Linked DNA regions of Homo sapiens. The protein of the gene in region 1 interacts with the protein of each later gene in a pairwise test. Each region holds a gene or a part of one and is shown on either strand. Other genes may lie near its edges.

What was found.
Region 2: the proteins of SSMEM1 (region 1) and GPHB5 interact in binary tests that used the Homo sapiens proteins (3 or more experiments, as listed by UniProt).
Region 3: the proteins of SSMEM1 (region 1) and TMEM86B interact in binary tests that used the Homo sapiens proteins (3 or more experiments, as listed by UniProt).

Annotation. Positions count from the first base shown.
Region 1 is NC_000007.14:130,205,772-130,209,371, reverse strand, and holds the start of SSMEM1 (serine-rich single-pass membrane protein 1), read right to left. Parts: upstream 1,513-3,600; 5' UTR 1,462-1,512; coding exon 1,279-1,461; intron 86-1,278; exon of another isoform or gene 1-85.
Region 2 is NC_000014.9:63,316,948-63,320,769, reverse strand, and holds the start of GPHB5 (glycoprotein hormone beta-5 precursor), read left to right. Parts: upstream 1-1,834; 5' UTR 1,835-1,946; intron 1,947-2,919; 5' UTR 2,920-2,920; coding exon 2,921-3,124; intron 3,125-3,822. UniProt on the Homo sapiens protein: Functions as a heterodimeric glycoprotein hormone with GPHA2 able to bind and activate the thyroid-stimulating hormone receptor (TSHR), leading to increased cAMP production. Plays a central role in controlling thyroid cell metabolism.
Region 3 is NC_000019.10:55,226,593-55,230,414, forward strand, and holds TMEM86B (lysoplasmalogenase TMEM86B), read right to left. Parts: upstream 2,172-3,822; 5' UTR 2,150-2,171; coding exon 2,099-2,149; exon of another isoform or gene 1,894-2,098; coding exon of another isoform or gene 1,846-1,893; coding exon 1,599-1,845; intron 972-1,598; coding exon 589-971; 3' UTR 46-588; downstream 1-45. UniProt on the Homo sapiens protein: Catalyzes the hydrolysis of the vinyl ether bond of choline or ethanolamine lysoplasmalogens, forming fatty aldehyde and glycerophosphocholine or glycerophosphoethanolamine, respectively and is specific for the sn-2-deacylated (lyso) form of plasmalogen.

The DNA.
Region 1 (3,600 bases):
TCAAAGAGTCTTTGATTAGAATGGAATCCAGCTGGCATGGACATAACAAACCTTCTCCACCCCATCCGAGCTCATAGAGCATTAAGTCTTACCACTGCCAGCCCAGGCCTATGGCTATAATGCTAAATGATGGTGGTTTTCTTAATCATCAGCCTGGTATTAATGGCCAGCAAGGATATCATGTCAGCAAATTATAAGAGCTTGGTTACGGCTGGGCGCGGTGGCTCATGCCTGTAATCCCAGCACTTTGGGAGGCCAAAGCGGGCAGACTACTTGAGGTCAGGAGTTTGAGACCAGCCTGGCCAACATGGTGAAACCCCATCTGTACTAAAAATACAGAAGTTAGCAGAGCGTGGTGGCTTGCGCCTGTGGTCCCAGCTACAAGGGAGGCTGAGGCAGGAGAGTCACTTGAATCCGGGAGGCGGAGGTTGTAGTGAGCCAAGATTGCACCACTTCACTCCAGCCTGGGTGACAGAGCAAGACTCCATCTCAAGAAAAAAAAAAAAGAGCTTGGTTACTCATAATATGTTGGAAGCATCACAGTCCTGATAAAGTGGGATATCTCATTCTTAAGACGATGGCATTTTAGTGGTGACTTTAGTTCTGTTTAGTCTAGTTCTGCTTATTCTGTGCAGAAAGCGTATTGCTTCATTCTAAAAACCCCAAAATCCTACAGCATGTATCCTATCAATATGACAACTTTCATATCTTTGATTAGAATCACATGGCTAGAAAAGGGATTTGGAAGTCATTAACCAGCAGGGAGGTTTATGCCAGCATTACATAGCAGATGGATAAACTGTAAACAATCTGAATGTTTCAAACTTGCACAATTTTTTGGTGCAATCAAAATATAGAAAATTATGCAGTCATTAAAAGTGCTGCTGAGTGAATATAATTTAAAGAAGTATTTCTGATATATTATTAAGCTTAAAAAGCAGGATATGAAAATATATGCAATATAATGCCAACCATGTAAGATCAAAGATAGAGAAATGGAGAGAGATATATTGGGAAAGGCAGAGAAAAAAACCAAACTGGAAGAACATACTCCAAAATGTTAACAGTGGTTATCTCTGGGAAAGAGGATAACTGTAGCTTTATATTTTCCTCTTCATCCTTTTCCATATTCCTGGATTCTCCAGAATAAGATTGCATTATTTTTAAAACTAAACAACTTTTAAAAGTAGTTTCATCAAAGTATAGTAAATGTATTTTATGGAAATTTTCCTAGTGTACAGTAAACATATTATTTAAAATGAAAAAAAGATATCCTACCCAGACAGAAGCCCTAGAGAAGAACATCAGGACAAATACGATAACAAAATACCAAAGCAGGAAGCTCCCTATGGTTCCACAAGAGTCATCCTTCCAGCATTCATAATCCTGATTTGGAATGGCACAATTTACAGGTATTGGGGGAGGATCTACCTCCCAAAATAAGGAAAAAAGGTCTCCCATGATGACTCCTTGCTCAGAAAATAAACCATGCTTAAAGGGATAAAGATGACTGGGAACTACTTCACTCCCTCTATGATGTATGACAATTTCCTTGGCAACCTATTATGACACATACTTAAGCAACTGTTCTAGGAACTGACAAATGCTTCTTGGACTTCTAAGTTTGTGGAAGGTTATTCAAATTACTCCTCTGAATGTTTATGTTATTTTCCCCCATACCTCAATATGGTGCATTCTGCCTTAATTTTTTTTCCTAAAACTTGTATATGCTATATTTTCCTATCTTCACGTCTAAGTGTTTAATGTATCCACTCATTTTAATTCAGTCTCTTTTATATGTATCATGCCATTGCAAATTATCATAGACAGTTCTAATGTATTACCGATCAAACTGTGTTCCCTAAAATTCATATGTTGAAGCCCTCACCTCCAGTGTGACTCTATTTGGAGACAGGGCCTTTAAGGAGGTAATTAAAGTTAAATGAGGTCATAAGGGCCCTAATCCAATACAATTGGTATCCTTACAAGAAGACAGCAAGGATTCACGAGCACAGAAATCAAGGTCACAATACAAGGGGGCCGTCTGCAAGGAGACCCGCCTCAGGAGAAACCAACCCTGCTGACAATTTGATCTTAGACTTCCAGCCTCCAAAATTATGAAAAAAATAATTTCTGTTGTTTAAGCCACCTGTCTGTGATATTGCGTTATGGCAGCCCTAATACATAATGCTGTCATTTGGTCAGTGGTGTTCTTTTTTAAGCCTTGAATAAATGCACAACAGCTTATAGATTAAGAGGGAAAAACACAGATGTGCCCGTTATGAACTACTATGAACTACATCAAATGCATACAATTTCTTCTTAGGAAAGAGTCACATATGGAGGGGGTGGGAAACCGGTATTCTAATTTTTTTTTTTTTTTTTTTTAGCAGGGTCTCACTCTGTCGCCCAGACTGGAATGCAGTGGCACCATCTTGGCTCACCGCAACCTCGGCTTCCCAGGCTCAAGTGATTCTCCTGCCTCAGCCTCCAGAGTAATTGGGATTACAGGCGCATGCCACCACGCCCTACTAATTTTTTGTCTTTTTAGTAGAGACAGGGTTTCAGCGTCTTGGCCAGGCTGGTCTCCATCTCCTGACCTCGTGATCCGCCCGCCTCGGCCTCCCAAAGTGTTGGGATTACAGGCGTGAGCCACCGCGCCCGGCCGGTATTCTAATTTTGATTGCACCTTGAGCCCTTTCACTTTGAACAATTTTCCAGTTAGTTCATCTCTAAATCTAAAACTAGAGCAAAACAACATTGCTGCTAAAGCAATCTAAAAATGATAAAACTTAACAGCTCTTCAAGAGCACAGCATACCTGCCGATTTTCATTAATATACAATACCACGTGGTATTAATCTTAGGATCATTTTAGGAAAAACTTTGGCCATTGGACATACATGATGTAATCCACTAGCTTACTGTGGCATGGCTTAATGTTTTTATTAGGAGGCACACTTCAGAACAAGTCCCCAGGCCCTGGGTTTCTGGCTGTGGACTCTAACGCGTCATCTCCTCCAGGAAGCTCGCGAGAGCTGGGGCTGGGCTGGATGCGCCTCCTTGGGGAGCACTGCATCCACCTCACCTGCCACCGAAATGCATCTGTGGGCCTCCGCTGGGGTTGAGCTCCTCTGGGTAATAACCAGGAAGGTCTTATTTTCTATATCCGTGCGCCTGGCTCAGCGGCACACTTGTAGGTATTTGTGCTAAATAAAACAAAGCTCAACCTTTTCCTCAGGATGAGCAGCTCTTCCAAAAAATACATACGAAAATGTGTTATTATTTTTAACCTCAAAACCACTAGCAACTTCAATAAAACAAATTTTGGGTGTGCTTGTTATTGCTGCACCCTATTAAACAGATTAAGAATTTAGGCCGGGCGCGGTGGGCCACGCCTGTAATCCCAAAAGGCGGTGGGAGGCCAGCAGGCGTTTGGGAGGCTGAGGCGGGCGGATCCCTTGAGGTTAGGAAATCGAGACCAGACTGGCCAACATGGCGAAACCCTGTCTCTACCAAAAAAAAAATTACATGGGGTCAGGACTCTTGACATAGATACTTTAACACAGGGGAAAGAAATGCTTTGTCACTGATGGTGTCT
Region 2 (3,822 bases), on another chromosome or scaffold:
TTTTTTTTTTTTTTTTTTTTTTTTTGAGACGGAGTCTCGCTCTGTCGCCCAGGCTGGAGTGCAGTGGCGGATCTCGGCTCACTGCAAGCTCCGCCTCCCGGGTTCACGCCATTCTCCTGCCTCAGCCTCCCAAGTAGCTAGGACTACAGGCGCCCGCCACTACGCCCGGCTATTTTTTGTAGTTTTAGTAGAGACGGGGTTTCACTGTTTTAGCCGGGATGGTCTCGATCTCCTGACCTCGTGATCCGCCCGCCTCGGCCTCCCAAAGTGCTGGGATTACAGGCGTGAGCCACCGCGCCCGGCCAAATTGTCATTTTTATAAAGTTAATGCTGACAGGGTGGAATGCATGATGCCACATCTCTGCATTATAAAGAACTTGGGGATTGTGAAAGAAAGATGCTCTTGGCCTTTGTAATCTGTCTTTATTGTGTGACTCTGCAGACACAAGTGTGTATGTTTCAGGTCTTAAAGGGTTGGGCAGCCGTCTTCAGAAACAGCCCAGGATGGCAGCTCACTGCCGACTGGCCAGCTCTTGGCCAGCAAGTTAGGAAGATCAGGCCAGCTGAGCAGTCCGTCCCCAGAGTACTCCAGTTCTGGTTATGCTACTCACAGGCTGAAGCGCTGAAGAAAGTCCTTTTTCCAAGCCTAGTTCAATATTCTATAAAACATGTATAATAATTCTGCTCTAGAGAGAGGGGTGGTAAATTGATGGACTCACTGGGCATTGTTATCTGTTTTGAAAATGAAATCTACAATGAGCAGTACATTTATTTAAAGAACACTTTTCTTTGCAGAAAGTGGAAATGGTTTAACTTCTTTACTTTGTTTCACTAGTTAGTTAGTGTGCATCTTCAATGTCTCTGCCTACATCATTATTTACTATGATATCAAAACTCCTAAGGGCAAAGATGATGTCTGCTTCATTTACTTTTTAGAGCACCCAGAAAAATGCCATGAACAAGTATATTTTTAATCCACTCATATGCTGTTATTGTAGATTGAAATATAAACTATATCCCATACTCATAAAAATATTTTGTTCTTATTTGAATCATTTAAGACCAAAAATCTGTAAAACTTCTCTATCAGAGCAGCACTGAATGTCCTTACAGACAGAACAAATGCATACCTTTTGGTTTATTTTAATTTTAAAACATTGATATTGACTGACTCTTTATTACAAAAGTCTGCCCAATGTAGAACATGTGAAAAATGCTGAAAACCATATAAAGGAAATGAAAAGTTTTCTTTAATTCCCATGCTGGAAGATAATCACTTGGAACATCGTGGTATTTTTTCCTAAATGATTCATTTTAAGGCGTTATTAATATCATCTAATTCTTAGCTAATTTTAAGACTTTCGACATGTTTCTTCTCACTGTGATTTCCATCTTTTCAGGTAGTGATCCTGTGTTCTTTCCAGCAAGAATTATCGTTTTGTTGTTTTTCAGTGCATTGAAACATGTTGTCGGTTAAAGGAAAGGGTTTGCCATGAGCTGCTAGTCACTTACCCCTGTTTCAAAGGAAACTTGTGGTTACCATGAAGGAAAATTTAATCCATCTGCCACAATGCATTTGTTCTCCTGAGAACCAGGTGGAACTACCTCTGACTATTTCCTTAGGATTATGCCACCCACCAAGGTAACTTTCTATTTCAGTAGGTGATGTTGAGAAACAAAACAACACCCTTTAAGTTAATCAGTTTTGGAAAATAGAGACTGGCTTTCTATTCCATGGCTTTGATGTGTTTAGTAGTTCCTGTAAGGATCTGCCTCTCTTTTGTTTTGATTGACAAGACTTTTCCTATATATTTGAGCAATCAAGCAGCCCAGTAACAGAAGGTAGAGACATTTACCCAGGGCAAACTTCTACCATTCATTGTGACTTCCTGAAATCTTAGTGCAAGTTTCAGCTCTAAAAGAAGAGTGGGCTCCTGCAAGATTAGGTAAGTGCTTCTCCGTATTTGTAACCTCATTCCAGAGGAGGGGAAGCCCAGAGAACTTGCTACAGTAAGGTCAGAAGTAGGAACTGTGAGAATAATGAATTCAGTAGGGGGTAAAGGTCCATGAATGCCATATCCTTTATACTTCAAAATCCACGTGAGTTCTGTCTAGTGGGCCAAGCATGAAGGGGGTTGATTCTGGCTCCGGAAAGAGCACGGGGAATGACCAAGACCCAGAGAGGGTGGACTTGACGGTGGATTGAGGTTATGTTTTAAATAACTCCTATGCTTTCCATCATTTGGATTTAAATTGAATCATAAGTAGATGCTGTTGCAGTGGAAGCCTAGAGCAGAAGCAATTTACAGTGAGTAGGACACATTTATGAATGGCCACCAACTCAGGTGATAGGTTTCATGATATCTTCTGCATATCCATGTTTAGTGGTGAGTTGGTTTAGTAACGATGCATATAGGGAATACTATTATTAATATTTATCAACCCCTCCAAATCATTCCCCATCATGACACTGAAAATATAGTTTTGAGCAAAGTATGTAACATGGCACCCAAATACCCTGGACCTGAATAAAAATAATTTATATGTATTCATGTATTCTGTTGGATTATGGATTAGTTTTGGTGTTACTCATATTTTATGTTTATTTTGGAAAGACCACTGGGACAAACTTCTTTAACACACAAGTCAACTGCAGCAGTTAAGTTACAATAAGGAAAAGCCTGAGAATGCACTTGGAGGATGGGCATCTAGAGAGGGCCATGGAATCCACACTGGCACCAGTTACAGGAATCTCTGGATGCCTGTGTTGGAGTTTGTGGGCATTTACAATTTCTGGGCTCATTTTCCCTGAAATGCTAGGAGCAAGGTCCCTTTGATAGTGACAAATGCATGGTTGGCTGTGCCATTGAAGGCAGCCAGATCTGTTAAACTCTGTCCTTTCCCTCTCCGGAAGAGCAGCATGAAGCTGGCATTCCTCTTCCTTGGCCCCATGGCCCTCCTCCTTCTGGCTGGCTATGGCTGTGTCCTCGGTGCCTCCAGTGGGAACCTGCGCACCTTTGTGGGCTGTGCCGTGAGGGAGTTTACTTTCCTGGCCAAGAAGCCAGGCTGCAGGGGCCTTCGGATCACCACGGATGCCTGCTGGGGTCGCTGTGAGACCTGGGAGGTGAGTTGCTAAGTTGTGCAGATGACAGTGTCTTCTAGGCCAGCAGCTTGGGTCTGATTCTTAAGAGTTCACTTTTTAAATGATATGAGGTAGAGCTGGGACATCTGCCCTTTCCTGTGGACTTAAAAAACCAAAACAAAACTATGATTGGCATCTTCCAAAAGTGATTTGAAAAACATGATGTTGCCCCTCTAACAAAGCATTGATAAGGTTAAGAATTTGGTTTACATTGTGTCTATGTATCTGGGAATCATCTCTGGGAGGTCAAGATGTACTGTTCTACCCGTTTTACAGATGACATGGAGGGATTCAAGGGAGAGTGGCTGCAAAGTCACGTAGAGCGTCAGTGTAAAGCTGGGAATCAATCTGTGGTTCAAGCTTGTGACCCAAACTCCTCCCTATGTTTCCTCATTTTGGATAAATTAGCCAGTTTCCAAGAAAGAGGCCCTGAGCTGAAGGGTGAGCGTTGGTCCCAGTGAAGGGTGAGACCCCTTCACTGCCTCTTCTGCAGCCCTTTTCCTCCTCAAGTCTCTGGGAGCCCTCTGGGGTTATCACTGACGGATCCATTAAGTTCCTTCATATTCAATTATACCTGGCCTTTTTAGAGACATTTAATTTAAAGTGGAGATAACACTCTCAAACAAAGTTAAAATCCTATTGGGCTAAGAGGAGCTGTTTGAGTGATGAAGAGGAAGAGA
Region 3 (3,822 bases), on another chromosome or scaffold:
AGCAGCCTCAGGAAACTAACACAAAGACCAAACAGTCCTCTTGGCTCAGTTCTGCACAATCCTCACTTTATCCCCCCGAATCCCCCCACCAGAGGGCCATGGAGGGTCCCACTGGGCACCAGGCCTGGTCCATGGGGAGCGACAAAGAACCTTCTGCTGTCATTAACCGCGATGGTTTATCACAATCATGACCCTCCCCGAGGCCTCTCCTACGGTAACAGCAACATCTACGGTTCCACACCCACAGGGAAAACGGATTCAGAGCAGCAGCAGGGGGCGGGCAGGCTGTGGGGCCGACAGTGAACATGGAGGCAGGCTGGTGGCTGGGAGGGCTCCATGTGGGCCTGGCTGAGGAGCCAGGGATCTGGAGTCAGAACCGGGGGAAGGCAGCTGGAACCCAGTAGTGGACTTGGAATTCCGCAAATCGTCCTCAAACGTCTTCAGCCAGAAGCGACGGCGGCAGCGGCGCCTGCAGACAGGCGTCAGGAAGCTTCGCTGCTGAGGGTATTTCTCAGGCTGGGCTGGGCTGGGAGGCCCAGGTCCTTGCAGGAGGAGAGGGCCTGAACACCGGCCCTTCAAGCTCCCTAGTCAGTCAGTCTTGGGCACCGGGCTCCTGAGGGCTGACAGTGTGATGAGGAGCTGGGCAGCATAGTAGGTGGTCATGATCACCAGGTGGGCATGGGGCAGGGGCTGGGCGAAGGTGTCCCAGGCCAGCACGCCATCAGAGAGCGTGAAGAGCAGCGCGCCCCAGCCGGCACTCCCGCCCTGGGCCAGGCCGCGCCACAGCATGGCCATCAGGATCAGCCCATAGGCTGCCACCGGCAGGACCATATCCGGCTCGAGGTGCTGGAGCACAAGGCTGAGGTAGGGGCCAGGGGCCAGGATGATGAGCAGCAGCAGGCCGGGCTGCAGGGGAGAGAAGCCGAAGGCCCAGACGTAGAGGAGGTGGGCGGTGGCAAAGGCGGCCATGCCTGGCGGGAGAGGGGTGGGGTACCAGTGAGGAAGGCCCATCCTGGGAATGGCCCCGAGGTCACCCCTCAGGGCCTAAGAGAAGGACCATCCCAGAGCACCAGGCCCCACCCTGGCCGAGCCTCCTTGCAGGTCTCCCCACATGCAGTGTCCATCCTTGCTCTGCTCAGAACTGCCAGGAGGCCCCACCTTCCCTTGGCCTCCAAAGCCCCATGGCCTCCAGCTCTCCAGCCACTCTGCGCCAGCCACCCTGGCCTGCTGGGCTACAAGCACCTGACACGTCCCTGCCCCGGAGCCTTTACACTCGCCCTTCCTCCACACAGGCATACAGCCCTTCAGCTCTGCCCAAATGTGACTTCCTCAGTGAGGCCTTCCTCAGCAACCCTGCTTCAAACTGCAGTACCTCCAGCAGGTCCTCACTGCCCTCTGCGCCACCTCAGCTACTGCCCTAACACCGCCTGCCCCCACCCCTCGCTGGAGCGTGAGCTGCCTCGGTCACGGCTGCGCCCCCCACTGTGCCTTTGACCACTGGAGCTCTCACAGGAGCCCTCTGCACCCAGGCTCCCATCCAAGTGCTGGGGCCTCTCTCACACGGGCATCTGGAAAGCGTCACAGCACCTTCCACTCACCAGGGACGAAGGCTGCCGGCCAGATGAGGCAAGCGTCCCCCACAGCCGAGCACACAAGGGCTCCCTGGAGGAGCTGGGTGTAGCCCCCGCTTGGGGACATGACCCACAGGAACCCAGCCAGGCAGAGGACGGGCAGGCACTTGACCAGGGCAGCGAACCAGGACAGCTGGTCCTCGGGAATCCAGAGGCAGAAGTACACGCAGCAGGAGAGGATGAAGGGGCTCAGCCACCTGCAGACATCTGGGCGCTTTGGGGAGTGGGGAGCTACTGAGCCGAAACCCAGCCCAGCCCCCATTCTTGGGACTCAGATCTCATGGCTCCTGTCCCACCCCCACCTGGGACCCCAGCTGTACAGGCTGGACCCATTCAGGGACCAGGCTGCCAGAACCCAGCTTCCCAGGGCCCAACCAACTCAAGGACAGCAGCTCCCAGACCCGCCGGCTGCTGGGGTTCCAGGGCCCTGTCCCCCCAGCCCCAGGCACAGCTCAGAAGGCTCTCACCTGGGCTGAGCAGTGAGTCTTCAGGGTCTGCCCCGCTTTGCCAGCGTCCATGCTGGCCTGATAGCCCCAGAGCGACCTAATCTGGGAGCGAGTGGCTTCAGGGGGTGGAGGGGAGGGCTCATGGTTACACGTTAACCCAAGGAGCGTCCTGTGGACTCTGTGACTGATAACAGGGCCCAGGGAGATGTTGTCCTCACCCTGGGGATGGCCCTGCCTGGCGCCCGCTGATAAAGCACTGTTGGCACTGGGGGTCCCTCTGCCCTAGCCTGCTGGGACATGGCTTCCTCCTCCTATCTGCCTGGGGAGGTTAGGCCCACAAATGCCTGTCCCCTTGTCCTGGGCCCCAACAATCAGAAGAGATGGGGTGCAGAATTCCAACAGCCACCCCATCATGGGAAGCGGGAGAGGGGCTGGCTGGCAGGAGTGCCCCTGGAGGGATGGGAAGGCGAGTCTGTCCTTCACTTGCTGCCCTAGCCGTCTCCCTCCCTGCTCCATGAAACCTTTCCTCATTCTGCTCAACCCCACCAAGCCCTCAGGGGCTCCACCACAAACACTGCTTCAATGGGTGACCAGGAGGGACCACCACGAATGCGGGGAACAAGCACCCTCTCCTGTTAGCTGAGCGAGCCCCCAGGTGACCTCCAAGCCAACTGCCACCCCAGTGAGGACGCTGTCCTCATGGCCCGGTCCACACGCTCCGGTTTCCCAGCGCCGCTCACCGGTGCCACTCGCTGCACACGCAGCCTACACTTCTACCTTCTACCTGAAAGACTCAGACCTACTGGGCGCCAGTACCCAGCCTCAATGCTGGGCTTGGTTACTGGGGGTAAGCAGGGGCAGGAGCAGGGATTTGAGCCTGTCGGTGGCTTCTATCCTCTGCCCAAGGCCCTGCCCACAGGTGGGGTAGACCTGGCAGGAGCCCTCACAGCCAGTGCCTGGCCCAGCCTGGGGCCTCTGCAGCCACAGGGCTCCCTCTGGCAGGACAGTGTGGGGGCAGACTGGGTCAGGAGCACCCCCAGCCTCTGGGGTGCAGGGATAATACAGGCTCCCCACCCCGCATCCCAGAACGTAAGGTCTGACCAGCAGAATCGTAAACTGCCTTCCTTTATTTATATTTGCAATATGAAATAGAAGCTCGGCACAAACGCACGCACACTCACACCAGCCTGGGAGGAGGGAGCTGGGGACAAGGTCACTTGGCAACAGGGCTGGGACCTCAGACCCTCAAGGCCCCTGGGGCTGTTGCCGGGGAGGCCCCTGCTCCCCAGAGCCGGACTGGCCTGGTTGAAAGTGCAGGGTCTGGGCAAAGGCACGGCCCCCACTCGGGACCCTCTGGCACCCCCACCCACGCTGGGCCGTCCCCCATGGTGGACCTGAGCTAAAAGGCCGGGTGTGGGCGTGGCCGTCTGCGCTGCAGCGTGGGACAGCTGGGCACGTGGGTGGCAACCTTGGGACCCCTAACACCAGCTCCCGCTGGGACGGAACAGGGAAGGCTGTGCTTTGGAGCCGCCAGCCCAGTTCGGTGTCCTCACTCTCTCTCGCTCTCCTCCCTCTCTCTATATAATATATAATATATGTTTCTCTCTCTCCATTCTCTCTATTTGACTCTCTGTATCTTTATTCTAGGAGGCAACGCTCCAAAACTTCTCTTCTCAGTGCAAATGGGGGTGGGTTGGGCCTGTCTCCCTGGCACCAGCCTCCTGGGGGTCCAGAGGAGAGAATGT